Homo sapiens: one gene and its partners. The protein of the gene in region 3 interacts with the protein of the main gene of each other region in a biochemical or structural test. Each region holds a gene or a part of one and is shown on either strand. Other genes may lie near its edges. The genes, in order: RGS7, GPRASP1 and CHRM1.

What was found.
Region 1: the proteins of CHRM1 (region 3) and RGS7 form a complex in vitro, tested with the Homo sapiens proteins (one study listed by BioGRID).
Region 2: the proteins of CHRM1 (region 3) and GPRASP1 form a complex in vitro, tested with the Homo sapiens proteins (one study listed by BioGRID and IntAct).

Annotation. Positions count from the first base shown.
Region 1 is NC_000001.11:240,807,199-240,817,213, forward strand, and holds part of RGS7 (regulator of G-protein signaling 7), read right to left. Parts: intron 9,218-10,015; coding exon 9,119-9,217; intron 7,580-9,118; coding exon 7,518-7,579; intron 6,531-7,517; coding exon 6,420-6,530; intron 4,846-6,419; coding exon 4,720-4,845; intron 1-4,719. UniProt on the Homo sapiens protein: GTPase activator component of the RGS7-GNB5 complex that regulates G protein-coupled receptor signaling cascades.
Region 2 is NC_000023.11:102,645,023-102,655,617, reverse strand, and holds the start of GPRASP1 (G-protein coupled receptor-associated sorting protein 1), read right to left. Parts: upstream 4,136-10,595; 5' UTR 4,023-4,135; intron 3,932-4,022; 5' UTR 3,885-3,931; intron 3,444-3,884; 5' UTR 3,353-3,443; intron 2,788-3,352; 5' UTR 2,720-2,787; intron 2,398-2,719; 5' UTR 2,320-2,397; intron 2,039-2,319; 5' UTR 1,705-2,038; coding exon 1-1,704. UniProt on the Homo sapiens protein: Modulates lysosomal sorting and functional down-regulation of a variety of G-protein coupled receptors. Targets receptors for degradation in lysosomes via its interaction with BECN2.
Region 3 is NC_000011.10:62,917,145-62,927,165, forward strand, and holds the start of CHRM1 (muscarinic acetylcholine receptor M1), read right to left. Parts: upstream 4,220-10,021; 5' UTR 4,074-4,219; intron 3,298-4,073; exon of another isoform or gene 3,016-3,297; intron 1,218-3,015; exon of another isoform or gene 782-1,217; intron 1-781. UniProt on the Homo sapiens protein: The muscarinic acetylcholine receptor mediates various cellular responses, including inhibition of adenylate cyclase, breakdown of phosphoinositides and modulation of potassium channels through the action of G proteins.

The DNA of each region.
Region 1 (10,015 bases), on a different chromosome or scaffold from region 3:
GTTGCATTTCTTCAATATTTTGCTCTAGGCTAGAGCTTGCTGGTTAGATCTCTAGAAATAATGTTTAAAAGATAAATGAGTATATCATAATTTGTTAATAGAAACAAACACTCTACTAGAAAAAGGAGCTGCTAGGACTGTGTTATCCTCCATAAACACTCTTACTGCTCTAATAGTAGACGAAGTCAAAGAAAGGCAAAGAGGGCCACAGAGACAGCAAACTTCAGGCTACAGAGTCTTAAGAGAGGCACAGGTGATCAGCAGTACCTTCGTAACTACTAAGCTTTAACTTGACCATTAATAAATAATCAGAAATCAGTAATGAAGTGCATGAGCTAGAATTAGAATATCAACTACTACTCAGTCTAGTGATTTTTGAGTTTTCATTTCCAGATTTTGTTTTTTTATAGATATATGTAGCAGAGGATAATCTAAGTTTGACAACGCCTCAAACAGGAAACTACCACCATGACTTTTAGAAAGGAAGGCTCAAGACCTTTCCCTCTTAAAACACAGATTTAGACACTGTGCACTCTAATAGGAATACTATGCGAGGCTGGGCATGGTGGCTCACGTCTGTAATCCCAGCACTTTGGGAGGCTGAGGCGGGCAGATAACCTGAGGTCGGGAGTTTGAGATCAGCCTGGCCAACATGGTGAAACCCCATCTCTACTAATAATACAAAAATTAGCTGGGTGTGGTGGCGAATGCCCATAATCCCAGCTACTCGGGAGGCTGAGGCACGAGAATCGCTTGAACCCGGAAAGTGGAGGTTGCAGTGAGCAGAGATCATGCCATTGCACTCTAGCCTGGGCAACAAGAGCAAAACTTCATCTCAAAAAAAAAAAAAAAAAAAGGGAATACTACGCATAATCCGAGGGAGCAGAAGTGTTGAAATTAACATATGCTCAGGCAAGTTCATGCCAGCACACTCTGAACACATCAATCAAAACAGTCTCTGTCCTCAAAGAATGAGTAGAGAAAAAGATAAACCATTTAATTGGCCGTAACACCAGGAAGTACATGAATGGCTCTCTAGGAAGAGAACGAACTAGACGGTCTGGGAAAGGCAAGCAGGAAAGAGCCCCTCTGCTGGGGCAAGTGCTGGATTGGAAAAGGGGGATCTAGACAAAGCTATTCTAAATCCAGTGACATCTGAAATGGGCCTGGAAATAAGCATAAAATATAAAGGGGTTGAGAAGTTAATAACCACACCTACACTGTTATGTAAGTGCAGGCACTGCTCTAAGTGATTCACCTATATTAACTCATTTAATTCCCACAGTAATTCTATTAGGCAAGTTCTATTATTTCCCTCATTTTAGAGAAGAGGAAACTAAGCATATGAAGATTAAGTTGCTTATTTAAGGTTGCTCACTATTACTGTCACAGCTGAGGTTTGCTCCCAGAAGATCTGCAGCAGATGACATGCTCACAACCACTCCCTCACACGGTCTTTCTAACAGCATCATTGCCTTTCTTATTCTCACCATTACTGTAATTATTGTAATAGCTTAATAGCATGGAGGAGCCAGGTGCAATGGCTTGCACCTGTGGTCCTAGCTACTCAGGAGGCTGAGGTGGGAGGATCAGTTGAGCCCAGGATTTCAAGGCTGCTATGAGCTATGACAGTGTCTCTGAACTGCAGCCTGGGTGTCAGAGAAAGATCCCATCTCTCTTAAAAAAAAAAAAAAATCCTATATCCTTTATATAGGTGGAAGCTAAGTAAGTATTTTTAATGTCTTTGATTCTTGATTTCCTCATCAGTAAAATGGGATGATAACGCCTATTTCACTGGGTTTCCACTGGATTAATTGGTTTCCATTGGATTAGTTGATTAAATTAATTCCGTTAATGTATACTAATGATATAAATTATATAGAAGGCACTGAAAAGTACTTGGCATATTTTTAGTCACTCAAAGATAAAAACTCATGATATTACTATGTTTTCTTAGCACTTGCTCTATGCTATGTGTTTTGCTCAAAAAAAAGAATGAGGGAAATACATCATAAAATTTCAAGTTTCTGCTCTCTATTAGGGAGAGCAGAGGGTATATTTGAAGCATAAGTAGTTATCGAGAAACAGTGCTTCTTATTTTTTTCCTGTCCTAATATTTGAAAAAAAATGCTCAGACGAGTGACACACTCACTGATAGCAGGAGGGCAGCTGTTTAGGTAAGATGCACGGAGAGTTATTTTATTTTAAGTGCAATTCACAGCCCTGTTGACCACTGGACCATTTTGTCTCCTTCAGTGTGTGACACAGATATGTCAGTGGAAGCAGAGTAGGGCTCAGATTTGGGGAGCAGTGGACAGTAGCTTGGTACTGGTTTGTAGGAAACCAAGAATGCCACTTACATGCAATCTGACCTCCTTAGCCACACTTTCTCGGCTTAACCTTCCTCAGCCACGCTTTTCTCATCTATAAAATGAGGCAATATTTACATTTTATGTTGTTTTGGTGGTTGGATGTGTGATGATCAGAAATAATGAATGCAAAATATAACAGCATACTTATAAAAGTAGTAGATATAAAATATATTCTGGTGTCTTGTAGGTATTCAAGAATTAATCTACATCTTTCATTTATCTACTGATCTATACTTACTAAGGAAACATATGATAGGCAATATAGTAGATACTCAAGAAATATATGTATATGTGTGTATGTATATAATGTGTGTGTATATATATAAGATAATCTAATATTTCTTAGATATAATCACTTAGCCTAGAGTCTAGTACGGCATAGAATGATTAAGATATGAAATGATTAAAGCTTGAACTAAGAAATTGGCAGGAATTCAATTCATGCCTGAAACCTAGTATGCACATGCTATCCTCTTTTTCCAAAGGCATCTTCTCTCTTCCTGTTTTGATGGTTTATCTCCTCCCCATTGTCCAGCTCTTAGCCTAGAAGCGATTTCCCCTAGTATCCCTTCGCTGATCTCTAACTCTGGGCTAGGCATCCCTCTCTGCTTCTCCCAACTAAACACCCATGATTTTGTGCTGTGATTTGTTTTCTTGTCTGTATCTACCAATAGACTGTAATTTTAATGAGAGAAGGCGATGTTTTTATTTGGCTAGGTGAGGCTGGTAAGGCTTATTACTTATTTATTTACTCATGATGATACAAATGATATCAGCATGTTTTCAAAAACTTAGAGAATGAGAGGAATGTCCATCTCCCTAGCCACTAAAATGCCTCAAGGATCCTTTATCTCTGCTTTATTTTTAATGCATTCTTTTTTTTTTTTTTTTTTTGAGACAGAGTCTTGCTCTGTTGCCCAGGCTGGAGTGCAGTGGTGCAATCTCAGCTCACTGCAACCTCCACCTCCTGGGTTTAAGCGATTCTCATTCCTCAGCCTCCCCAGTAGCTGGCACTACAGGCATGTGCCACCATGCCCGGTTAATTTTAATTTTAATTTTTTGTAGAGATGGAGTTTGCCATGTTGGCCAGGCTGCTCTCAAATTCCTGGCCTCAAGAGAGCCACCTGCCTCGGCTCCCAAAGTGCTGGGATTATAGGCGTGAGCCCTCGCACCTAGCCTTTTAATGAATTCTTGCACTCAATTATTGACAATGTGACCTAATATAGAAAATGTTATTAGTAGTCTCAATACAGAACTTTAGCAACTTTAGCAGCAAGATCTTGCAAAAGCCCAAGCATGAAGGGTTCCCATAAACTGGAAGGAGAATAGGAAGCTGCATGCCAGCAATCCATGCCAGGCACACACAGAGAGTTACATTCCTCCGGGTTCTGTCTGTGGTCATTTTGCTTCATCCATGCGACATGTGTCAGCGTCCTACATCTTTCTGAATGGTTTGGGATTCCTACCTGTTAAATCTCCTGAAAAGAACGTGACCATGCCTGGCACTACTTCGTTCCAATGAAAATAAATGAATGCAGAGAACTTTCAGTAAATGAATTTTACAGGACTGCATAAGTCATGGAAAAGTAAAAATTGGGCATCAGCTTTCAAAAGAATAATGAATGAAAGAACTCATGAAACAACAGTCTTATATAGTGGAAAGTTATCACTCCCTTCAATGATGTTAAATAGAGCTATTAAAATCCACTCTAATGTCTTATATTTAAAAATGCAATTTTCAGATCCTCCTTATGTTAGCAAGTTTTAAAAATATATAAAGATGATGTTTACAACAGATGGGCAGAATGGGTGTCACTCTCTCACGAACAGCTCAATGCTGTGCTGCTCTCAATTGCCCTGTGGCTATTATTTAAACATGCAAAGAGAATGAGACAGCCCAATAGTTTGGTTTCAAGTTATTTGATATAGCTGCCCAGTCTCTTCTTCTCTAACTTGCTTGAGAAGTGATACGCAAAGATAGTCAACAATGACAAATAGGTGATATTTTAATTGAACTTCATAAATGTTATTGGCCAATCTCCACTTTGCCAAACATTGTTCTCTGTACTGCATTTCTTTACAGAGTCCATTTCAAAGCCACCAAATTTGTATAGTTAAAACATCTGGAGATACAGAGACGGCGTAAAAATAAGTTATAAGAAATTGATACGTTGGACAGCCTTTGCCTTGCTATCTCTTTTCCCTTCATTAGGTGGCAGAAATTCAATGGGTTCATGACATCATTATGATGTTAGTGGAAGAATAATTGATCTATTACCTCCAAAATAACCAGACACATCACAGACAGTATTTCTCTGGCTTATAAGATCCAAGCAATGTGTTTTACCTTAAATTTTCCGAGCTGAATTCTGACTCTAGAAATTTAAGGAACTGTTCTCTCCCAACTGGGTCTTTCAATGCCTCGTCCATGCCAAAACCCCATCGTTTTACCCTCTGCTGGCTCGGTTCTTTGCTATAGAAGATAAAACAAAGGCAAATACATTCCTTTCATTAGAATTCCCATTTTTTTGTTATTACATTCCCCTTCAAAATCATGTGTGCCTCGAAGTTCCCATCTTTACCTTTTCTTTAAAAATATATATATCCGATTAACGGCTCTGCATGAAATCATCGTGTACATTAGTATTAATAATAAAGTCTAACATTTATTGAGCATTATGTGCCAGGCACTTTACATAAATGGTCTCTTTTTGTTTTTGCCAACCACTTTATGAGATAGCCACTATTAATCTTATTATTTTCCAGATGAGGACAGTGAGGCACAGTATTATCACTTGCCAATGTCAGGCAAGTAATAAGGGGTAAAGATCCAGATATTCTGACCCCAGTGCCACATTTCTTTTTTCTTTTTTTTTTTTTTGAGATGGAGTTTTGCTCTTGTCACCCAGGTTGGAGTGCAATGGCGTGATCTCGGCTCACTGCAACCTCCACCTCCCGGGTTCAAGAGAGTCTCCTGCTTCAGCCTCCCGGGTAGCTGGTATTACAGGCACCTGCCACTATGCCCGGCTACTTTTTGTATTTTTAGTAGAGATGGGGTTTCACCACTTTGGTCAGGCTGGTCTCGAACTCCTGACCTCAGGTGATCCACCCACCAAAGCGTCCCAAAGTGTTGGGATTACAGGTGTGCGCCACCATGCCAGGCACACATTTCTTAACCACTACGCCACACAGGGTCATGCAGGTATATTGAACTGGGGAAAATGCATTGGTAACCAAAAGATCTCAATACTAGCTAATGATTCTGGTGTCAATTAAATCTGTGACCTAATCCCAACTGAGTCACAACATTTTGGGGTTCCAGCTTTCTCATCTATAAAATCTTTAGCTTGTGGAGGAAGAGTTCTGGGCATGTCCAGTGTTTAAGATTCATGGCTGGATGCAAAAGTGAGAGAGACCAGAAATGCAATCTAGAGAACTGCTAGAAGTGTGACAGAGCACCCATCTTTTCTTTGTAAAGTGATACGCCATGATCCTCTTATGAGTCTGTTAAGACTGATGATGTAGTTCTTTCCCTAGATAGCTCATGAAAGAAACTATGGAGTCCTAAGTGGTGCTTTGCTTTTCTTAGGAAGTGTCTTGCCAGTTTCTCTTACAGTGTCTATGGTAAGCTCATTCTGTCTTAAAATTGAATTTATAAAGACATACTTGTGTTGGGCTTAAGTATGTATGGCTTTAGCATTCACTTTACTTGACTACATGAGACTTTGTGGCTACGTGAATTTTCCAGGAAGATAATAGCAATGAGCTAAATTTCAAGAGCTGAAGATCCTAACTCTGACTAATTGCACCTCTAATTTTGGGACGGTCTTTCCAGCAATGCAAATCTTAATGCAAATGCAAATCTTAATGCAAATGCAAATGTCTAAGTTTCAAAAGCCATGATCTCGAACAAGAATGTTAGATATAGGCCAATGTAGATAAAGAACAAAATTACATTCACAATTAGCCAACAATAAAATCCTTCCCATTTCACTCAGACCCTGAAATAAAGCAACATATGGGCGAGAAAGATAAAATGCCACCTACCTTGCCTCAAGTTCCCAGAAAGTGGTGTCATCGGACAGCCATGGGTTAGAAGGGTCAGGTGGCAAAAGAAACGGGTCGTATTCTAAATACTGTTCCGTGTAACTTAGTAGACTAAGGAGAAAAAACATTTCCAGTTTCTTTAGTTTTCTGACTGGGGTTGCAGCCAGTCCAAAGCAGGGAAAACAATATAAAAATGTGGGACCAAGGAATCCTTGTTCACTTAAAGCATGAAATCCAATGGCAATCTTCACGCTTCAGTAACTTTCATGCAACAACTTATTGTGCTTCTTGGCAGACAACTGTGGCTAAAGATTCCATCTCTACCCATGCCTAAGCCATGTAAATCAGTATCCCTTGGTTAACATGAAGCACTATGGAAGAGGTCAGTGTGTGAAGGGCACCGCTAAGAGTCAGTTCCAATCTTTGGTTAATCAGTCCACCCACAGCAGAACAGATTTTATACAACTGAGAGAAGGGCTTAAAAGGGAAATTTTGTCAAAAGTATTTACAGGAATTAAGTAAAATGGGAGCCACTGACAAGTTTTTTAAATGTATATAAAAATTTTAAAAAGGGAGAAGGGAAAGAAGTTGGGGAGGTAGGATTTGGCAATGCCCAAAAGTGAAGAATATGAATGGCATTAAGAACAGATTTAAATGAAGCAAAGGAAAATATCTGAAATTTGAGTTTCATTCATATTCTGAAGTCAGGCAGGAACAGTGTCAATTGTCATTGTTAAAATAAGTTTATAGAGAGGCTCCAGTTTGCCCAAAGGTCATCAATAAATGGAAAGTTTCATGTCTTCCAGCAGGAGTGAAAAGGCTAGACTCTGCAGAATTATCCTCTATATCTGATTCTTAGTGGAACAAGGACTGGATGTCTAGACATTTAAGACAATTATAATCATTCTGTCATTTAAACTACATCAAAAGAGTTCTTTGAAAGTTTTTCTATGTGCAAAAAGGAAAACAAAATCACATTACTTACAGGATTCCAATTATCTGTCCCAACTCCTGTCCCCACAGTTCTCTTTCATTTTTAAACACATGTAATTGTCATATGAAATTTTAAAATTTATACAGACACTTTGAAATACTCACCTGTCAGCGACTTTTGACATTTTTAACCGATGTCTATCTAACTGTATTTGCCAATATTTTATCTGAAAAGAGGGTTAGAGAAGGAGTTACATAAGTAATGACATTTTCACAATTTTCCACTCTAAATCATGATCAGCTGGGCAATTCTGAACAAGAGTATAGTCTACGTCAGTACAATTTCAAAGTTGGTTAAAAAAATAGAAGCAGAGGGCTCTTAAAGAGTTAACAAAATGAAATGTTGGAATTTGAACACAATTGATATCACTTTAGAAGAGCAATGAGTTTGACCATTCTGCCTACTTTAACAAAATGTGATTTTATTTTAAAATTGTAGAGATTTTGCTGGGTGCAGTGGCTCATGCCTGTAATCCTAGCACTTTGGGAGGTCAAGGTGGGTGGATCACTTGAGCCCAGGAATTCGAGACCAGCCTGGCCAACATAGTGAGACCCTGTCTGTAAAAAAATATATACAAAAAGTAGCCAGGTGTAGTGGTGCAGGTACTATAGTCCCAGCTACTCTGGGGGCTGAGGCAGGAGGATCACCTGGGACTCTGAAGCAGAGGTTGCAGTGAGCTGAGATCACACCACTGCACTCCAGCCTGGGTGACAGAACAAGATTCTGTCTCAAAAAAATAAAAAATAAAATTGTAGAGATTTTAAACGTTCATTCATGGTGAATACCTAAATCCAGAATCATACTTCCCTCCAAATTTAGAAAATAAATGTATTTATTACTATAATTTCAAAATAAATCCTATCTCCTAATACCAAGAAAGTATCAATGATATGTGTTTTGAGAATAATTTTATCAACAATTCATGACAAATGCTCACATGGAATAATCACACACAGAAAACTTTAATTAAAAACGCTCTGAATGACTTTTCCTTCCTGATTATTGTAAATATACTAGAAAAGTATATTTTACACTCTTGATAAACTATATTATAATAAAATATCAGAGGAAAAGAGTCAAAATGAGAATAAAGCCCCATAACTGAACCAATCATGAGATTATTTGATTTCAGACACTGGAGTTTGCTTTGAAATATTACTTGGAGTCAACACCATTGATCAAATGCTAAAAAAAAGAGGTAGTGTATAGCATGACTCCATGGCTGTACGCCAGTGGTGATAAGAAAAAACTTCAAGAGGTAGAGAGAAATCAGCACTGCAGAAAGCGAGAGTAAGCACTCTTGTGAAGAAAATGTCCTATCATTGGATGTGGGAAGTGTGACAATGTTCTCAACCTCTTGTCCTCTTACTCTTTAAAAGAGAGCTTTGGAGTACAAAGTAACTATTGATGATGGAGTCACTTACAAATCAGCATATGTGATTTTTACAATTGGTTAGAGGAACAAGGATTTGGGTAAATAAAGAGTGAGGGGTTTTGAAAACCATTACCATATATTGATACATTTTCAAGTAATTACAATACTTAAAATTACAACATTTTATTATCTTTTAACTGCAAATCTTCCACATGAAACAGTCAGTCATACAAATAACCTATAAAAATACCCACTATTAACATTTACCCTCTGGTTTTCATAGCTGTTACTCTGTAAACCTTTAACAGGTCATCTCATAGGTTGACTCACCTGTTGTTGTAACTCATCTTCTGTTGGAGGTTTAGTTTCTGGTGTGGGTGTGTGGGTAGGACTGTGACTTCTAATATCATTTTGTAAACCATAGACAGACTATATTAAAATAAAAAATAAACATTTTAGGACAAAATACCGTTTACAGTCACAGACTTTCTAAAAAGTAACTCTAGCATAAATTCAGTAAGGTCTCTCAAAGCTTATTTGATTAAGCTTCTTAACAAAATTCAAAAGGCACTGCTAAGATAAAAATCAAATGCATATAAAATAGAAGCACAGCTCGGAAAAAATGTGTAGTTAGATTATTAACTTTGACAGAATAATTGGTTATATGTAGAGAGCAAGGTGCATGTGATAAAATTTGAGAGCAAGCTGGGAATACCAAGTTGGAGAATGTCAACACTAACTAACATTTCATAAGCATTGATTTAAGAAAATAGAGAGGTGGATGAAGAATAGAATAGGAATGCAATAACTCAAAAGAAGATTTAAAAATAACTCGATATTTTACATAGGAATTAAATGGGGCACTGAGGAGAGTGACAAGTCAAGAATTCTATTGCTGATTTGATTTCTGATGGTGCAATAGAAGACACCAGGGTACTCCTACTCTCCATATCAACAGTGGGTTATTTACTTCACAACACTAGCCTTGCCATTGGGTGCCATTTGCAAACATCAGTGACCCCAGAGGCGTCATGCATCTTCGGAATTCTCAATACCCTTGTATTTTTTAATTAACTTGTCAAAAGGTCAGACCTACTACTTAGGAAGACTCTTTTTTGAGAAAGGCCCATTGCTTAGTAAGTATAAATAAAGATCTGGTGACTAAAGGGATAAAAAACTATCTGTAACTGACTATGAGACATCTCACGTGTCAACTCAAGGAAGAAG
Region 2 (10,595 bases), on a different chromosome or scaffold from region 3:
TTCTCCGATTCCAGCCTCTATATCAACTTGTTCTCCAGACCAAAACCAGGGACCAATGACCTCTTCTTCCTCAGACCTTGTCCTGGACTCACAGCTGACCCCAACACCAGATTCCACACTGGCCGCATCAATGACCCAGAACCACGACCCAAAAATGGTCTCTTCCTCAGCCTCTTGGTTGACCTCTTCACCAGCCCAGAACCAGGAACCAATAATGACCTGTTCATCATCAGCTGCTAGTATAGATTCAGAGGTGGCCTCAGCCCCAGTTTTCATACTGGTCTTTTCCCTAGCCCCAAATAAGGAATCACCAATACGCTCCCCATCAGTCCTTGGTCTGGATTTACTGCTAGCCCCAGTCCCCATACTGGCCTCTTCTTCAGTCCAGAACCAACTCCCAATTATGGACTCATCCTCCACTTGTAGACTGGACTCTATGCTGGCTTCATCTGCCATGCTGGACTCGTCTGTAGCCCAGAACCAGGTCCCAATGAGGGCTTCCTCCTCTGACCTGGCTTCTTGCTTGGCCCTGGCTCGGGCCTTGGTTTTGGCCTCTTCCTTTGTCATTGCTCTGGCCCTGGCCTCTTTCTTGATCATGGGCCTTGAAAAGGTATTAGCATTTTCTTCAGGCCAGAAACAGGACTCTTTTTTAATTACATCTATAGACCCAGGCATGAAATCAATGCAAGCTTCTCGCTTGGCCCTGTGCCTGGCCCTGTTATTGGCCTCCTTCCCAGCTCTCATTTTGGACCTGAATTTGGCCTCCTTTCCAGCCCCAAACCAGGACTCCAAATGGTCTTCATGCTCAGATCCAGAACTTGATTCAACATAGACTTCTTTCTTAGACCTAAACCTGGACCTGCTATTGGGATCTTCCCTGGGCCCAGACCAGGTATTGGTTTTATCTCTGGCCCAGAACCAGGGTGTCTTAACAGACTCATCCTCAGAACCAGAACTAGATGCAATATAGAGCTCCTGGTTAGTTTGGGACCTAGACATGGTATTAGCCTCTTGATTGGCCATGTGCATGGATCTGTTACTGTCTTTTACCCTATTCCCAGGATGAAATTTTGCAGTGACCTCATCTCCACTCCAGAACAAGGAACTCACAGATTTGTCTACCCATTTGAAATCAGAATTAGGAGAGGCTTCTTGTTTGGATGTAGGCCTAGGACAGCACCAGGACCCCATATTGGTCTCCTCCTTTGACCTAAAAGAAGGCTGGAATCCTGCTTGGTAATGGGCCTTCCTTCTAGGAAAGCTCTCAGTGTCTGTATTAACCAGTTCTCTATCCTCAGACAGGTACTTTGTTTTAGCAACCAAGACAGAATCAGTACTGACAAGTGGAGAGGCTATGATATTGGTCTGGGAGTTTCTCTCTGTCTTAGACAATCTTTCAGCACCAAACCTGGGCTGAGCCCACATCTGGGCTTCTTCCTTAAATCGTGAAACAGGTATTGCCTTGGCCTTACTCTTAGGGCGTGCCCCACCCACTGCACTTGTCTCAACTTTGGTGCTTGCTCCAGGCATAACCTTGGACTTATTCTTGGGCCTTGCCCCAGGCATTATCTGGGCCTGGGTCCTAACCTTGGGTCTGACCACCAGAGGGACATCATTCTCTATCTCAGCCCCACCTACAACCTCTTCCCCAGGCTTCTTTTCAGGCTTGACCTGGGCACCAGACTCAATCTCTGCCCCAGTCATGGTACAAGTTACAAAGAAAGTCCAGTACTATACTCCTCCCCCAGTCTAAACCTCAACCACAGATCTGTCACAGGTTTGTTTCTTCACACTCTGATCTTTAGGTGATTGAGGATATAAGCTTGGAAACAAGAGTTAGAGTCAATATCCAGTCCAGTAGTCACTCAGCCTCCTTCCCAAACACAGTCTCAGTCAGTAATTCAATAATACAGATAGAGTGTAGAACAGGCACAACCAAGCTTGAGGAAGACAGAGATTTCCTGGATGGGTGCAGACCCGTTGAGGGTGGTTGTCAGCAGCAACCCCACCACCAGCAGAGCAGCCACTGGAGGTGGATCTAGGGAGAGAGAATGAAATGGGGCTTTGAGTCTCTTCCAATTATGTCATCCCATGCAGAGACATATGCAGTGAGACTGATGTTGAATGCTAGGTGGGACAGCTGGGCTTTGAGAAAGTCTCTCTGGACCGGCTGCCTCCTATTAAACAGGTCCAACAATGGTGGGAAAGTGTGTCGGCAATGGGAGGGGCCAAGAAGTCCCCAGATTGGACCCTAAGCACTCCCGGACCCATGCTGGTCTCCACTACCCCGCCCAAAAGTATACCCACTCTCATACCAACCTTCACTTATGTGGTGCAGTTTCCCCCTCCTTTTCTTGTTCAAGTAGTGTCAAGCCCCACAGCTGACAGAAGGGGGTCCTACAGACAAGTAAACATACAGGAGAGAATGGAGAATGGTAGATAGGCAAGCACTCTGGCTCCTGTGACAAATATCTGTCTTCCCATTCAAGGGTTCAATGTATCTATGGTTTCCTGTGTCCTGGTCCCTGCTCTCAGGTCTTTCTGAGTCACAACACAACCTACACCTATCTCATGTCCCCTGCAAGAAATAAAAAGGATGCTGGCACTGTGCAAATCCAGCAGAGTAGAAGTGGGTCTGCACCCACTGGTCTCAAAGCCACCTGCCATGCTCTCTTTCTCCAACTGTCCCCTGAATTGCCCCCTCCCCCTTCTCACCAACCTCCAGAGGTGTGAGCCAGTCTCCTCCTCCTTGCCTTTCTTGCAGAACTGGCCAGCCTTAAAGCAGGCCTATGGACAAACAGATGAAAAAGTAAGACAGGAAATGAGGGGTGGCAGTAAAGCCCTTGGTAGAGAGACCAACGCTAAGGATAAGAATCCCCATATTATTGATATCTGTCTTTCAACATTCGGGGTTTTGCTGGTGGAATATTCTCGTTTTGTTTAGGCCCTGCTTCAAGGTTCTAGAGATAACAACTCCTTCTCTTGACGTCATACTCTTCTCATTACTCCCTTCTCCAATTCTGAGGATTCACCACTAGGTGCGCCACATCCCCTTGCTCTGCGCAGCAGAAAATGGGGGAAGGGCGCCACATATTCTAGAAAACAGGTCGTGAATTGGTACTTGTCAGTATGTCTCCCTCATCACCCCTACCTCCAAAGCTCACCCTTTCAAGCCCCCAGTTTAGGACGGTGGGGGAGGCAGATGGGGATGGAAGGTGGGGGAAGCGCCTGGAACACCATTAGAGAGGGGAAGATTAAGAGGTGCTCCTGGATGCCTGACCTGCTCTGGTCGCAGTCCCCCACCCCGATTCGGTTCTCCAGTGTTTGGCACCCACCCCACATCCCCACACACCTCCAGAAATCCAGGGAATATTCGTGCTCCTCCTTTATTTCAAGCCTCTCCTCTACAGATGCTCACTGTGTCCTGTCAGAATACGCCAGACCTACCGCGCAGACAGACTTTGACATCAACCTGGAGTCTGTGGGAAGGGACAGCACCCAGGACACGGGGCCCCACAGGCCCCTTTCCGGAATCAGGGCCCGGAGCAGCGAACGCGACCCACCTCCCACGGGCTAGGCACAGAGCTGGGACGCTGGCCCACGAGGGCCCCCCCAGGCGCCCCCCAACTGCCTCCCGGGCGCCCCCCAACACGGCTCCCGTTTGGCCATTTCTCCCGCAGGAGCCTCCCCCACAGCCGTCTCTCGGTACCGAAACCGTCGAGGGCTGCGCGCGGGCGCCTGCAAAGCTGGCTGGGAAGCGGTCAGCGCGGTTCTCCTCCAGACGATCTGACGGTGCCTCTGGAGCCAGCCCCTCAGCCCTTGGTCCGGCCTGGCCCGCACCAGTCACCGCCTCCCCATAGCCAGGGATCTCGGGCACTGCGCACCTCTCTCTAGCGCCCGGCTCCGAACGGATCGTCTCCTCGTTGCCAGGCTGTCAGGGTCCGGGGGGCAGGTTGCCAGCCGGTCCACCCTGGCGGACCACCCCCACACCACGGCCCCCCACCTCACGCACCCCTACTTGCCTTCAGAGGCCCAGAGCCCAGGTCATCGGCCTCCCCCTCCTCTCTTCAGCTCTCCTCTGGCTGCTCTTCAGTTGGATTCCCACCGCTTTCCCAGCGATCCGAATGGCAAAGACGAGTCCCGCCCCCCACGCCTCTGCACCAAACTGGGCAGGGGCTGCGCAGGATGCGGCAAGAACCGCTCTCCGCGAGGGTGTCGGGAAGGGGGGCGGAGGGATACGGCGCGAAAGTGCAGGACGCCCCCCCTCACAGAACCACCATAGTTCCGACCCAGAGGTGGGCGGGGCCAGGACGAGCCCCAGCCGGGGCCTGCGGGTTGGCACCAGGCTGCCTCAGGAGGACCCCGCGGACCCTAACGTGGCGACGACCACCACATTTCTGGCGCTGCTATAATATATGGCACCGGCGGGCGGCTGCGGGGCCGGGCGGAGGACAGGATCGCGAGGTCGCGAAGAGCCGCGCTGGAGGGAGCAGCGGATGGATACCAAACCGTCCCTTGGTGTGTCTGCACCCCCGCCCCAACCGCCCCCCTATAAGGACTGCTGGGTGTTTGCCCTCTCCCCCTCCCTAGTCTGCTCACCCTCCTTCCTGGATGTTAATGGGAGAGGGGGTGTCAGCACTGCAGTGTGGGAGGGGAGAGGCGATTTCAGTCCAGACAGGCCCGGGGTTCTAGGGTGGTCGTCCTGTGCGTTTCTTTCCCAGCTTCGTGGAGCCACGCAGGGGAGGAAGGTACACCTGCTCTTAAGTGAACTCCGGGGCAGGGGGCTCCCATCAAGGACTCACCACTGCCCCTCTTCTAAAAGAAGGTAGACCTAGACCTCTAACCCTAGGAAACCAACCACTGGTCTGCACCAGACTCATTTCTTTCTGCCACACCGCTGTTTCTCATTTCAAATGGTGGCTCACGTTGGCATTGCACCGTCCCCACAGTTGCCCCCAAAAGAGGACCTTTCCCTGTCAGGACCCGCAGGAGGTCATAACAGTCCTCTCTCTTTGATGCCGCCAGGTAGGGATGGTCCTGGCTTCTCTTCGGTTCCCTGTCAAGTCTTCTCTTGCCATGATATTTGGCAGTGTGGAAATGTGGCTGGTATCAAACCAGCTTGGATCTCCGCCACCTGCCACAACTACCTATTGTTTCAGCAGTCATTCTCAGGAGAGGATCCCACCGTGCACCCCCCTCCCCGAGACAAAGCAACCTGGCTCATTTGAATCCTCTTCTTTCACCCCCACATCCGTCCTCTACTCTTGAGCCCCTCCTTTCCCTGCTTCCTGCATGGGACAGACAGAGCAATGTGGTTAAACACCAAGTTGATGTTGTTACTGTTGTCCATTTGAAAACTCATTTAGACACTACCCTCATTGTGTTTGGCAGGTAACGGTCCCCTAAAGATGTCCATGTCCTGTTCTCCAGAACATGTACCATTTTATATTACCTGACAAAGGATCATTAAGATTGCTATTCAGCTGAGTTTAATTTAAGATTATTCTGGGTTATCTTGGCCAATGTAATTGCAAGGGTACTTTAGATGTGGAAGGCAGGGACTCCATGTCAGATTGAAGCAGCATAGAAAGTCTACACTGGTCATCGTTGGCTTTGAAGATGGAAGGAAGCCAAGATCCAAGAAATACAGGCTGTCTCCAGAACCTGGAAAAGACAAAGAAACAGATTCTTCCCTAGAAATGCCAGAGGGATAGCTCCTCTGGCAACATCTTGATTTTAGTGTGGTGAAGCCCTTTGAAGATTTCCAACCTTCCAGGACTGTAAGATAATAATAAATTGGTATTATTTTAAGCCATTCCATGTATGGTAACTGGTTACAGGGTAGCAGCACCAGACCTATCTGGTTTAACTTTTATATAACAAAGTTGTGCATTGTCTTTCAGTTGCCGGGGACCCTCAGATCATGTTACCTGAGCATCCTCAGATGAACCAAGCATGCAATCAGAGGGAGAATGTAAGTGTTTTGAATTAGGACCAGGGCTGAATTAAGAAGTGGACACTGGATGGCAGGATCCAGTCAGATCATGCCTCTCAGCATCACCTCATTGTAAGATCCAAAGCCATCAGGATATACCCTTAATACCCAATGCTTATGAAAACCTGACCCAGCCCCCATCTCAGGGAGACATTATTTTGGGAAGTATCCCTGGTGGTCTCATTACTTCGTTACAAGTAATAAATCCCCTTACTAAATCCTTGCTGTGATCATGGGGTTGATGTCAAACGACTGAACCCACCCACTGTGTTGGTTGGTAACAATAGCAGGAGTAGGAACAGAATACACTCACCATCCTGATGAATTCTATTCCCATTGCCTTTCTTTACCTGTGCTTCAGTCTCTGAGAAATATTTTAGGGCTCATCTCACCAATACAGCCACCAATCCCCTTTACTGTTTTATAATTATGTCCAAAATCACATTTGCACAAGCTTCTGTGGTAATTCTGCAGGTGCTAGGATCTTTATTCCAAGATATTTACTGACAGAGGAATGGTTCTACCAAAAGCTGACAAATTTTACTGTGTGAGACTTTAAAATGTGTGTTGGACAATTTGTTGTCAGTACTCTTAGAAAACATGGTCTTGTATTGGTTAGTATGTATTGAAGTGATAAAGGCCCTACTTTAAGCTTTTCATATGTTAGCTTTGTATGGGTATGTATCAAATAGATTATTATTTTTAAAACCTTTGAGCAAATAAAAGATTGAAATAAGATACTCTGACTGCTAAGCACTATTTATTTCCTCCTATAATTGATTCTAGTTCAATAAATTGCAACAGTCATCTTTCTACTCCTCAGTGCCTACACTAGCACCTGTGTAACCCTGACTTACCACTGAAATCTAAATGTCAGAGCCAAATAATCCATAAGCATTAAGTCCATGATACAGATGCAACTGTGCTCACTCATCATACTCACTGTTTTCTTCCAAATCCCACCCACCACCCCCAAGCATGCTCATGAACTTGCACACCAGCCTATCACTTGCCTGTTCTCCTCTTGTCTGTCTCAATCACCATGGTCATGGACTTGTTTTTGCCTATTTAGTTTTACTTGCCTCTATACTGTCCTTTATGGGCCTCAAGCAAAGCTTCCTTCTGAGACTTCTCTTTTGGTCGAGGCTGAGCCAAACCCTGTGTTTTCTTATAATGTATCCCCTTCTTCTATCTCAAAGTTTCAAAGGTTGTACACAGAAATTAAAGTCCCCTGTAGTCAGGAATAACTAGGCTGAGGTTGGTCTGGTGAACTATATGGTGAAATTGGCCCAACAGATGTCTATTTTCAGTGTAGCCTGAAAATGCTATGGGAAAGATCTCAGCCTGTCTCTACTTCTTGAGACAGGGTACATTTGCAGAACTGGTGGGGAGGCCTGGCCCAAGAATATTTTCAGGTCATATTTGGGGTGGGGTCTACTTCAAGAGAATTAATCTTGAAGAAAAACCAAGTCACGCACAAGGACCCTAGCCCATGAACAATGCCTTGCCATTAGGGAAGTATAGATATTCTAATAGCAACACTGAAATTATTATAGAACTCCTATTTGTGCCTATTCCAACACAAACCCTCAACTGTATATCTGTCATAGCAAAGGCAGGTTTATACATATCCAGGAAATAACTGTCTTTAAGTAAACTCTGTAATGCTCCAGTGTAAGGAACCCATTAATAAAGCATAACCTAAAGAGAGGAAAATATCCTCCTTTCTAACATGGATTTAAACTTTTGACTACTACTCAGATCTGACATCATGAAAACCCTGTGTATAGGTGGAGTTAGGAAATTAGAGAGAACAGTTAATTAGAGGACATTAAATGCCTGGCAATACAGCTTAGAATGGCAGCAACAACTGGAAGAATCACAGGAAAACCCCAAAAATTCAGGACATAGGAAATACCCCTTGAGGATTTTTAGAACTATAGGAGCTGGCAAGGAGAGCTAATTAGCTTTACAGGGAGAAGAAAACCTGAATTTCCACAATGTCAATAAATATTAGAAATTAATGGAATGTCAAATTGCTTTCTATAATAGAAAAAATAATGAGAAAACTACACTACCTTTTGTTGTTGTTTCTCATTAACTAACCATCACTTCCTGCCTCATCATGATAGGGCCTCACCACAGCCTGCATCCAGCCAGCAAATGAGAAAAAGGAGAATAGAAGTAGTTGATTTCCTTCTTAAAATCCATGGTGAGGAAATGCTCACATCATTTCCACTCACATTCCATTGATGGGACTTGATATGGTTTGACTGTGTCCCCACCCAAGTCTCAACTCGAATTGTAACTCCCAGAATTCCCACATGTTGTGAGAGGGACCCAGGGGGAGGTAATTGAATCATGGGGGCCAGTCTTTCCAGTGCTATTCTCATGATAGTGAATAAGTCTCACAAAATCTGATGGGTTTATCAGGGGGTTCTATTTTTGCTTCTTCCTCATTTTTATATTGTCACTGCCATGTAAGAAGTGCCTTTTACCTCCTGCCATGATTCTGAGGCCTCCCCAGCCATGTGGAACTGTAAGTCCAATTAAACCTCTTTTTCTTCCCAGTCTCGGGTATGTCTTTATCAGCAGCGTGAAAACAAACTAATACAGTAAATTGGTACCGGTAGAGTGGGGTGTTGCTCAAAAGACACCCCAAAATATGGAAGCGACTTTGAAACTGGGTAACAGGCAGAGGTTGGAACAGGGCTCAGAAGAAGACAGGAAAATGTGGGAAAGTTTGGAACTTCCTAGACACTTGTTGAATGGCTTTGCCCAAAATGTTGATAGTGATATGGAAAATAAAATTCAGGCTGAGGTGGTCTCAGATGGAGATGAGGGACTTGTTGGGAACTGGAGCAAAGGTGACGCTTGTTATGTTTTGGCAAAGAGACTGGCAGCATTTTGCCCCTGCCCTAGAGATTTGTAGAACTTTGAACTTCAGAGAGATGATTTAAGGTATCTGGCAGAAGAAATTTCTAAGCAGCAAAGCATTCAAGAGGTAACTTGGATGCTGTTAAAGGCATTCAGTTTTATAAGAGAAGCAGAGCATAAAAGTTTGGAAAATTTGCAGGCTGACTATGCGATAAGAAAGAAAAACCCATTTTATGGGAAGAAATTCAAGCCAGCTGCAGAAATTTGCATAAGTAGCAAGCAGCCTAATGTTAATCCCCAAGACCATGGGAAAAATGTCTCCAGGCCATGTCGGAGAACTTCCCAGTAGTCCCTCCCATCACAGGCCTGGAGGCCCAGGAGGAAAAGTGTTCTTGTGGGCTGGGCACAAGGCCCCCATGCTGTGTGCAGCCTGGGCACTTGGTGCCCTGTGTCCCAGCTGCTCCAGCTGTGGCTGAAAGGGGCCAACATACAGCTTGGGCTGTGGCTTCAGAGGGTGGAAGCCGCAAGCCTTGGCAGCTTCCACGTGGTGTTGAGCATGCAGGTGTACAGAAGTCAAGAACTGAGGTTTGGGAACCTCTGCCTATATTTCAGAAGATGTAAGAAACGCTTGGATGCCCAGGTAAAAGTTTGCTGCAGGGGTGGGGCCCTCATGGAGAACCTCTGCTAGGGCAGTGCAGAAGGGAAATGTGGGGTCAGAACCCTCACACAGAGTCCCTACTGAGGCACCACCTAGTGGAGCTGTGAGAAGAGGGCCACCATCCTCCAGACCCCAGAATGATAGATCCACTGACGGCTTGCACTGTGTGCGTGGAAAAGCCACAGATAATGCCAACCCATGTAAGCAGCCAGGAGGGAGGCTGTACCCTGCAAAGCCACAGGGCAGAGCTGCCCAAGACTGTGGGAACCCACTTTTTGCATCTGCATGACCTGGATGTGAGACCTAGAGTTGAAGGAGATCATTTTGGAGCTTTAAAATTTGACTGCCCCACTGGATTTCAGACTTGCATGGGCCCTGTAACCCCTTTGTTTTGGCCAATTTCTCCCATTTGGAATGGTTGTATTTACCCAATACCTACACCCCCGTTTTATCCAGGAAGTAACTAGATTGATTTTGATTTTACAAGCTCATAGGCAGAAGGGACTTGCCTTGTCTCATATGAGACTTTGGACTGTGGACTTTTGGGTTGATGCTGAAATGAGTTAAGACTTTGGGGGATTGCTGGGAAGACATAATTGGTTTTAAAATGTGAGGAAATGAGATTTGGAGGGGCCAGGGGTGAAATGATATGGTTTGGCCATGTCCCCACCAAAATCTCAACTCGAATTGTATCTCCCAGAATTCCCACGTGTTATGGTAAGGACCCAGAGGGAGGTAATTGAATCAGGGATTGGTCTCTCCCGTGTTATTCTTGTGATAGTGAATAAGACTCACAAAATCTTATGGGCTTATCAGGGGTTTCTGATTTTGTTTCTTCCTCATTTTTCTCTTGCTCCCGCTGTGTAAGAAGTGCCTTTTACCTCCTGCCATAATTCTGAGGCCTCCTGAGCCATGTGGAACTGTAAGTCCAATTAAACCTCTTTTTGTTCCCAGTTTCGGGTACATCTTTATCAGCAGCATGAAAACAAACTAATAGAGGACGCAATCACCATTTATTAAAAATCTTGTCCGTTCTCTATATGTGGTGGTGGTAATGAGAGAACC
Region 3 (10,021 bases):
TCTTCTACCTGTCCAAGGTTCCTGTGGGATCAGTGAGATGGTGGCTGTGAAAGAATCTGGTTTCCCATGATTGTGGCAGATTCCCCTGGGGAGACCAGCCCTAGGCTGAGGATTAGGGTATGGGGTTCAGTGGTAGCTCTAGAATCCCTAAAGAAGGAGGGACTTAGGACAGCCAGCTGGTTGAAAAGGGGGCTTGAAGCTGCATTTGCAGGGCACGTCCTGTGAAGGCATCCATGGGGGCTGGGGCTCACATATGCAGTGAGTTTGTCAATGGGGATTGCAGTGGGCAGCAGGAAGACCCCCCGAGGCAGTCCTTGGCACTGCCTCTGCCTAGCTGCCAGCTCTTGTCTTGCTATGTGACCTTGGGTAAATGACCGTCCTGACCTGGTGGCCCTTCTGTGGAATGGGGTGAACTCCTAGGATGAGTGTTTGTGTGTGAGGGTATATGCATTGCTGAGCAAGGCTGGGAATGGTGGAGGTGGGTCCATAGCTTTGTGGGGACTCATCCTCAGAGGGTGTTTCACCTGGAGTTCAGGAAGATAGTGAGGAAGCAAGGAGGGGCTTCTCTCCAGGACTGTGGCCTCCTGATGAAGGCTGTTAGAAGGCTTTAATACTATCACTAATACTCCTTACACATAATAGCAGCAAAGAAAAATTACTCATATTATAGTAACTGGTATTTACTGGCTGCATACTATATACCAGACATGGCTCTAAGCATTATATACATAAACATTATAAACTCGATCTAATCTACCTGTTACAACTCCTTGTGAAGTAGGTCCTGCTATCCCCAGTTTGCAAAAGGCCTAACCTGAGGCTTCAAGACCTGAAGGACCTTACAGCTCATCAGCGATGCAACCAGGATTTGGATCCAGGCCGTCTGCCTCCGAGACCAACCTCTTGAACCCTACTCCTGCCCTTGAGGGGTTGCGGGGGTTTGCCAGCCTCCTTGCCCACCTCAGCTAGCTTACTCAAGCCCAACTTTGAATCAGTTAACGATGAGCAATCGGTCCTTCTTTCAGAATCTGGCCTCCTTTGTGTGCGCGGCAGTGTCTGTCGTATATCTGTGTGATGTGTGATAACAGTGCTGTGGGAAGAGGGTGGGTCTACTGGAGCTCTTTAAAGGGCAGGGTAAGGGCTGCGTCTGTCTCATTCAATGCTTTATCCCAGGGCTTGGCAGATAGTAGTTGCTCAATAAATACCTGTGGAATAAATGTACGTGTGTGTACTCAACTTCAGACCCTGGAGCCTGAGGGTGAACCTGTGGGGGTCAGGACCAGGTCCAGAGCATGGTCCAGAGGCCCCTCTTCTCCCTTGAGCTCCCACATCTCATCTGCCAGGTCCCTGCTTCCCTGAGTGAGGCCCTGCCTGGCTGGAGAGCATAGGAGAAAAACAGCCAAGAGCATCCTTGTCTGTAAAGTGGACCAAGGAAACCCTGCCTCACCCGGCTGCAGGGAAGCTAAGTGAGGTGCCAGGACAGACATGGACGTGCCAAAGCATTTGTCACTGGGGAGAGGAGAATGTTAGCCTGGGCTCAAAGGGTTAAGGGATGAGGTCAGAGCCTTTATTACAGCAGGCCAGACTGTTGACTCCCAGCGCCCAGGACCAATCCCTAGGGGCTGGGGATCTGGCTTGTGAGAGCAACTGGGAGTGGAGAGAACCACTGGGGGAGGCAGGGAAAGGGAAATGGGGAGAGGGATTCCTGAACACCAGGCTTTTCTGAACGTACCGCTGGCCAAAGAGTACAGAAGGGGAGGGAGGGAATGAGGGGATGCTGGGGAAGATATTTAGGAGGGAGGAGCGGAGCCATCTTGTGATTCTGGGCCTGGAAGCTGGTAGAGTCCTGGTTAGGAAGAGGGGATAACATTGGGGAGTGGGAGGTATGTGGAGGGGGCTGTGGGGTTGGGCACCTGAGGCCTCACATATGCAATGAGGAGGGCGCTCCTTCTGGCCAGGTCTACTCACTGATCCCTTCTGCTAGGGCCTGACCCCAGAAGCCAGCCCATACGAGGCAGCTCTCCCCTCGGGGTTAACTTTTCTTTGACAGCAGCTCTTGACCCATTAAGGTGCACAAAACTTCCACCCCTGATGTCTGGCTTTGAGAATGAGGGAGTAAACAGAATTTATCACATTTTTAAGGCTCAACAGTTGCCATTGGGAGGGCCAACTAGTCTTGTGGAGGGCAGCAGCCATCAGTTAAATGCTACATGAAACACACTGCTTAGCTGGAAGAGAAGCATCAGCCCTAGAATCACTGCCAAATTTGCTCACCCATGATGGATCTTAAGCAGTTGCCTGACTTTGGCCAGACCATGACAGAGCCTGGGCATGAGCAGCTGGACCCTAGACCTCACTCTGCCAGTGTGGCATCAGAGGTTCTGGGTCCCTCATCCTCCTCTCCGCAAGCCCCCTGCTCCTGGCTCCTTGCACTCTCCTCCTCATTTCCTTTCTTCTCTCTCCCTCCCTCCTCCATCCTTGTAGGCATCACCATGGCACCACAGCAGAGCAGAAACCCAGCGCAATTCACCCACCTCTCCCCGCCTGCTGGGAGCCCAAGCTTCTGCGTCTCAGAGCTTACTGCGCCCCCTGCTCTCCCACCCCATCTTCCTGCTCATGGAGGCGGCAGCGCAGTGTTGTGCTGAGGATGCGGAGAAGGGGTCCGAGCCCCAGCTGGATCCCTACATATCCCTTCTCCGACCATGAGCATGTCCCTTTCCCTTTCTCAGCCTCAGTCCCTCCATACAATAGAAAGCCTCCTTTCTAGGTCTGACATGACCTCTGGTTAGCCCCTTCTTGACACTTTGGACTCCCCATTACACTTCAGAATCCAGTTCTCAGAACTCCAACCGCCAGCTGTCAGCTGCGAGCCAAGACCCACATCTTCTGCAGCCCATTTCACTATCTCCTTCCCTTTCATATCTCAGCCGCGATAGCGACTGCAGCTTGCCTGGTGGCTGAGGTCAGAGGGCAGAGAACTCTCATCTGACAGCCCACTGAACAGCTGATTACCCTGAGAAAGGAGACTGTCTGGCTACTGGAGACTGCCTGACTCCTTCCAGCCAGTTGGGCAGGGGTCTTGGGTCAGTCTGGGTGGAGCTGCAGGTGTGTTTTGTGCAAAGATGTGAACCCCTCTCCATTGGCTCTGATAACCTCTAAGCTGCACATGTCTGGATGACCTAATGAGAGCTGACGACCCCCTCCCCAGCTGGCCTGCCCAGGAGCTGACAACTCTACAAGCATCAGAGTTCCTGGCCCCTAGCCCATCCCCATGTTGTGCAGTCTGCGGGCACTGGGGTGAGTACCTGGCGTGGGTGCCCATTGGTATCCATGCATTGCCTGGATATAGGACTGAGACCCACCCTGCGGGAGCCCAAGATACTAGAAACATAAGGAGGGTCCTCTGGGCCCCTGCGCACGTCAGGGCCACCTTCCCTGGCTAGTGTGGCCACCCACATGCCCATTTGTCCCCAAAGAGCCCTGGGGCTCTTTGCCTGGTCTCCTGCTGGCTTCTGGCCTGACACCCACCTTGGCTTCTAGCTTCTCTATCTGGCCAGCAGCCTGATTCAGTCCATCTTGGGGGAGCTGAGGTGGACGGGGGTGGTGGGTTTCAGGGTGCCCTGAGGGAGGACAGGAGGTTCTGGGACTGGCACCCCCATCAAGATGGGGGTCAACCTCCCACAGGATGCTGGTGGCAAGGGCTGCTTCCTGGCCCTTTGCCCTTCCCACTCTGCCCCTAGGGTGTTGGGGGTTCTGCTTGCTACCAGGCAGCCTAATCCCTTCTGGGCCTCAGGTCCAGTTTCCTGAGGGGGATCTCCATCTCCTCTGCCAGCAGAAGCCCAGAAAAACATCAGCTATATCCACTCAAAGCCAGGAGGCCGAGTGTTTGGAGCAGTCAGTGTTCAATGCTACAGAGCCCCCTTGCCCTCTAGACCCCTCCCTGGCCTCCTCCTATCTCTGTGAGTCCATCCCTATTTCCATCTCATCCTGATCCCTGCCCTCCCCCGCTCCCCAGGACCCTCCTACCCTCTACCTTAGTGCAGCCCCTCCCAAGCCCTCCCAAATGTACTCACCACGGGGCTGAAGAGGGGTCTGTAGGGTCCTCAGCCCCACTGCCTCCCTGGGGGCCTGCGGCGTCTCCAGGGACCCAAACACCTGGCTCCCAGGGGGAGCTGCGCCCTGTGCTGGCAGCGGGAGAGGCACAGCCAGTGATTGGCATGTCCCACCCCCTGGCACGCCAGCCTTAGCGGGGAGGGAGAAAGGGAAAGAGAGGGAGGGAGGAAAGGGAGAAAAGGAAGGGAGGGGAGCTGGAGGGAAGCCTCAGGCAGCGTCTGGGGTTGGACTAGGTTCTGGAGTGTGCCCCCCTCCTTCACCAGGGCACCCAATTTGAGCCCCAAGAGGGAGGAGAAAGGACATGAGGAAGGCGAGCCCAGGAAGGCTAAAAGTCCCGGACGGGAGAGAAGGCGGATACAGGGAGACAAACACCCACACCCACTGCACAGACCCGGCGGCACACACACCCTCACAAAGGCACACTGTTTCCTTGGGCTCCTCCCCCCACCCAACCTTAGAGCCCCCAGCCCCTGTGCACCATGCCCCAACACACATGCCCTGGTATTCACATGCCTGCTTCCCTCGCACACACGCCCTCCCCCCTGCACATGCCCACGCACCCACCCACCCAACTACACACCCTGCTCTTCCTCCCTGCTGTGAGAGAGCTAGATTCCTTCTGTTTGGAAATGACACATTGGGCCTCACGTGAGAGGCTCCAACTTGGAACAGACCCAGAGGGCTGGCGCACCCGCCCGGGGGCTGAGTGAACGTGCCCGCATGCTGGGCTGTGTGCGCTAGCATTGGGCTATGCATAGCCTGTTGTGAGGGTATATGGGTGTCTGCTTTTCGGGGATGAGTAGAGGGCCAGGTGCCTGCCCCATGTGCGGCTGAGTGCCTTGCATATGTGTGTCCCTGTGTACTCATGTCACCATGCAGCCTGTGTAAGTGCAGGTGTGACCCTATCAGTCTGGAGGCAGGACGCGTGTGCACACGTGTGTCTGTATCTGATGTGTGGCTGAGTGTTGCCCAACTGTGGAACTTGCTAATTCTGACAAGTGAGGCAGCCTCTACCTGCCTGCTCCACCCCAAGCTTCCACTTGGAAGACAGACAGGCAGACAGACAGCTCTCCTCCCAGCTTGTCAAGCTCTGTCTCCCCTGACTCCCACTCAGGGCTCACAGGTGTGTACCTGGGAGGAGATGAGCCCTCCTCCCAATCTCCCTCAGCCCTACTGGGTGAGGCCAGCATCCCTCCCTGCCAGGCTGGTCTGGACTTCTGTGTTGAGCTTCCTCAGAGATAGAACCCCTGGGGGGCCGTTTGCCCTAGAGATGTGGGTCCTGCACCGCCTCTGTTTGGCCCTAGAGACCTCCCCGGGAGCTGACTGGGGAGGAGAGTTGGAGGCTGCAGGGACTGCCTTCTGGGGCTGCTGTGTTCTTTGCCCACTGGGCTGTGTCGAAGTCTTGGGGTGAGAGGTGGGAAGGAATGGGAGCATCAATTATCCCCATTTTGTAGGTGAGAAATCTGAAGAGCAGAGGTATGATTAGCATGTGGTGGGCAGGTGTTTGGGCTCAGGTCACTTGGCTCTAAGCCCAGGGCTCTGGAGTCTGGGGCAGGGGTTTCCCCTACTCATTTCCCCACCAAGCGCCGCCCCCCGCCCCCACAACCCCGCCAATGCTGGTGCCTGAGGGTAACCTGGGGCTTTCTCACCCAGGAGCCCAGTTGGCCAATGGAGCCAAGTGGAGCTGAAACTGGAGTTCCTGGGGTTTGGTCAGCAGCTACTGGTGGGCACACGTGGCAGGTACATGTGGGGGCATCTGTGCTTCTCAAAGCCAGCTGGGGTTCCAGCAGGCACCCAGTCCTCCTCCCTGCTGAAGTCAAGCAGACGCTGCAGCTTGGAGAGAAATCTAAGTGAGCATCCCCTTTCCATCCCAGGGTCACCCAGCCGGTCAGGGTTGGGTCAGAACTTGACCAGTCCCTACCCTTGGGCGCGGACTCGGGATGCCCCCTGCTGGGCTGCCCTGGGTTTGCGGCTGCGGCTTGGGCGGCGCGGTGGGGCTGCGTGTACTTGTGCGCGTACACGTGGCTGAGTGTGGGGGTGTTAGGCCTCCACGCTCAACATCCATTTCCGAATCTGAATCAGGCTCCCTCTTTGCCACCTCCCCCCAGTCTCCTTGGTCTCCCTTTTCTCTTCTCCCACCGCCTCTGCACACGTCCCTTTAGAAATAAAAACACTTATTTTGTGGGCGGGTGGGGAGGGTGTCCAGCTTTCCCCTGCCTCCTCCTGAGTGCCCCCCTCTGTCCCACGCGGCTTTCTTCTGAAGTCTGTGCAGTCGCGGACGCAGGGGGATGACGCCCCCCGCCACCCCCACCACTGTATCACTCTTCTGACGTCCCCGCCCAGACTTGGCTAGCTCACCCTTATCAGATGGGGAAACTGAGGCAGGAGGGGAGAAGAGAGGTACGGCCTGGAGAAGCGCTCCCGCCCGGCTCGCTCACCACCCCCGCACTCGCGCCCGATTTAGCCGCAGGGAGGCTGGGAACATTGTCTTTATTTTAAGCCTCCGAGTGCGGCACGAACGCGGCTGCTCGCGACAAAGGGCTTCTTGAAGCGGCTGCAGGCGGCGCACGTGGGGCTTTGGCCCCGCCCCCGCGCGACCCCCTCCAGTTCTCCCTCATTTCTGGCTGGGTTGGGTGGGGTCTGACTCTCGGGTCTCGGCTCCTGCTGGTTGTTATTTTTGGTCGCCTGGTCGAGAATTCAGTCCTCCAGGCCACCAAGGGAACGTGGAGTCGCCCTTGCGCGGCTCGGCCCCAGTCTCGGCCCCCTTACTGTGCAAGAGGAGAGTGCCCTGAATGCGAATTCAGCTTGGCCTTTTTCTAGTTGAAGCGGCCTGAGCAAGCTAGGCCCCCTCTCTAGGTCTCAGTTTCTTCATCAGTGACAAGAAGGGTAGAAATACCTCCCCGACCAGGCTGTTTGACGGGTTAGTTGAGCTTCTGCAGGTAAAACGTGGCACGTGCGTCTGCAAAAAGTGAAAGCCATCACTGCGGTTTTTTTTTTTTTTTTTAATACAGGGTTTCGGTCTCTTGGCCAAGCTGGAGTGCAGTGGCGCGATCAGAGCTCACTGCAATTGCCTGCCGGGCTCAAGCGATCCTCCCACCGCAGCCCTACCCCCTCACCCACTCTGAGTAGCTGGGACTACAGGCGCGCGCCACCCCACTGGCTTTTTTTTTTTTTTTTTTTTTTTTTAAATTTTTTATTGACAGGGTTTCACCATGTTGGCCAGGCTGGTCTTGAACTCCTGAGCTGAAGTGATCCGCCCGCCTCCGCCCCCCTCAGCTTTCTAAAGTGCTGGGATTACTGAGCCACCGCGTCCGGCAGTTCTTTTTTATAACACTTATTGAGCACTTACTATGTGTCAGGAACTGCTAAGTGCTCTCTCTCTCTCTCTCTCTCTCTCTCTCTCTCTCTCTCTATATATATATATATATATATATATATATATATATTTGTGAGACAGGGTCTCACTCTGTCGCCCAAGCTGTAGTACAGTGGCGTGATCTCGGCTTACCGGCAACCTCCGCCTCCCAGGCTCAAGGGATTCTCCTGCCTCAGCCTCCCGAGTAGATGGGATTACAGGCGCGCGCCACTACCGCCCAGCTAATTTTTGTATTTTTAGTAGAGACGGGGTTTCGCTATGTTGGCCAGGCTGGTCTCGAACTCCTGACCTCAAATAATCCACCCACCTTGGCCTCCCAAAGTGCTGGGATTACAGGCGTGAGTCACCGCATCCGCCCGGCCTCTATATTCTTATTATTTTATTTTATTTTATTGTTTTTTTTGAGACGGAGTCTCGCTCTTTCCTCCAGGCTGGAGTGCAGTGGTGCGATCTCGGCTCACTGCAACCTCTGCCTCCCGGGTTCAAGCGACTCTCCCGCCTCAGCCTCCCGAGTAGCTGGGACCACGGGCGCATGCCACCACGCCCTGCTAATTTTTTGTATTTTTAGTAGAGACGGGGTTTCACCTTGTTAGCCAGGATAGTCTTGATATGCTGACCTCCTGATCCACCCGCCTCGGCCTCCCAAAGTGCTGGGATTACACGCGTGAGCCACAGCGCCCGGCCTATATTCTTTAATTTACTTTCACAACTCTATGAGGGAGGTTCCATTATTCCCATTTTACAGATGAGTAGATTTACAAGAGGCGTGGGTCCCTGTGGTTTCATGGAGGATGAGGTCAGTGCGCCTGGAGCCATCCTGGGGCTGAGCACCTGCTGCAGTTCCAGAGACGGCAGGGACTGTGGGACAGCATTTTTAAGATTCCCAGGGTCCGGCAAGGCCGCAGGTGGGTGGAGGAATGAATGAGCAGGCTCCGGGAGTGCGCTGCAGACCCGGAGTGTAAGTCTCCGCCCTTGGTTTTAATCCGTGTCAGAAACTCAAACCCAGCTAAATGTGCCACTTTTACAGTGCCGCTTCCTCTGTCCTGGGGCACACATTCTGAGTCCGGGTGGGAGGCAGCGGGTCGGCCTAAGGGCGCCCCTCCTCGCATCTTCACCTTCAATGGCCTTAGGTCCTCAACTTCCTCTCTCCCCCCACTCCCTCCCGCCAGGACTCCTGGAGAGACTAATTCCCAGATGTAAAACAAGAAACTCAAATCCAGGGCGGGGCTGCGTATAGAGCAGGCCCAGTAAGGGGCCCCCAGAGTCCCCGCCGTCCGAGGCGAGAGCGGACGCGGCCACAATAAAGGCATCTTATTGGGACAGGAAATCGGGATTTTCCGAGTCCGGTTTCGAAATTGAGGCCTTGTAGACGCTTCACCTTTCCTGCCCGGCTACGTGCTGGGCTCCGGAGGGCAGTGGGAGTGCGGAGAAGCAGCTCCACTCCCCAGCCCCAAGTCTTGCGGGCAGTTCCCGAAGAAAAGATGGGTTTGGGGCGGTCGCGAAAGCGGCGCCTCGCGTGTTTTCCTGCCGTTCCCGGGTCCTTATAGCCCGGCCGGAGACTCCGCTGAGTTGACTCGGCGCCCGGGGTCCTGCCAGGGGTAGTGAATGCTGGGAACTGAGATAACGCAACGTGGCGTTTCGGACTCCCCGCTGGACCGGGCCGTGGAGAGGAGCTGCGTTCCCACAGGGCATCCCTAAGCGTCCTCTGTCCCCGCCTATGAGGACACAACCTGGAAGTCCAGGCCACTGGTTGCCGCCTTGGAGTTGGATGTACCGTGAAAGTGCGGCCCCGACGCAGGAAGCAGGCACCTTCCCCCGCACTATGGAAGCTCGCGCCCCTCGCTTCTCGAAACACCTGATTCACGGCGTCGACCCTGCTTCGCTGGGTCTGCGGACATTGGGCTCCTCAGCTTTCCGCCACAGGGTGTACGCGCCCGGGCCCAGGCGGGTGTAGGTCCCACGTGAAACTGCTGGAGCCCGGCGGAGCTTCGGACGGGAATTTGGGGTCAGAACAGGTCCAGGTCTCAAGGCAACCCCCAACTCTGTACAGTGGAATCCGCTCGTCCAGGGTCGTGACCCGGGTGAGGCAGTGCGGATTTCAGGGTCCCCGTGCTCCCAGCCCGGCGAAGTTTCACCCTTCCTTCCCTTGCTGGCTTCCTCTCCCAGTTCCCTGGACGCCGAGTCCTCGAGTCTCCCCCCCACCACCCCCCGAGGCGGAGGCCAAAGCTTGAAGCCCACGATGACGAAGGGTGGGTGGGAAGGCGCCGGGGGAGTGGAGCCTCAGCCCGGTTCCTCTCCTGAGACACTTGCAGGCGCCGCAAGTACGCACCGAGAGGTTCAGTAACCTGTCCAAGGTCACACAGCTAGTAGGTGCCAGAGTCAGGCCAGTAGAATTCCAATCATTGCTTTTGCCGCGATCCTAAATGTCCCCTCAGTGTCAAATGTACTCGCGTCTTCGCGAGACCCTCACCCCTAGGCAGGCGCCGCAAGTACGTCGGTGGGTCGGGGGCTGCCCTTTACCCTACCCTTTGT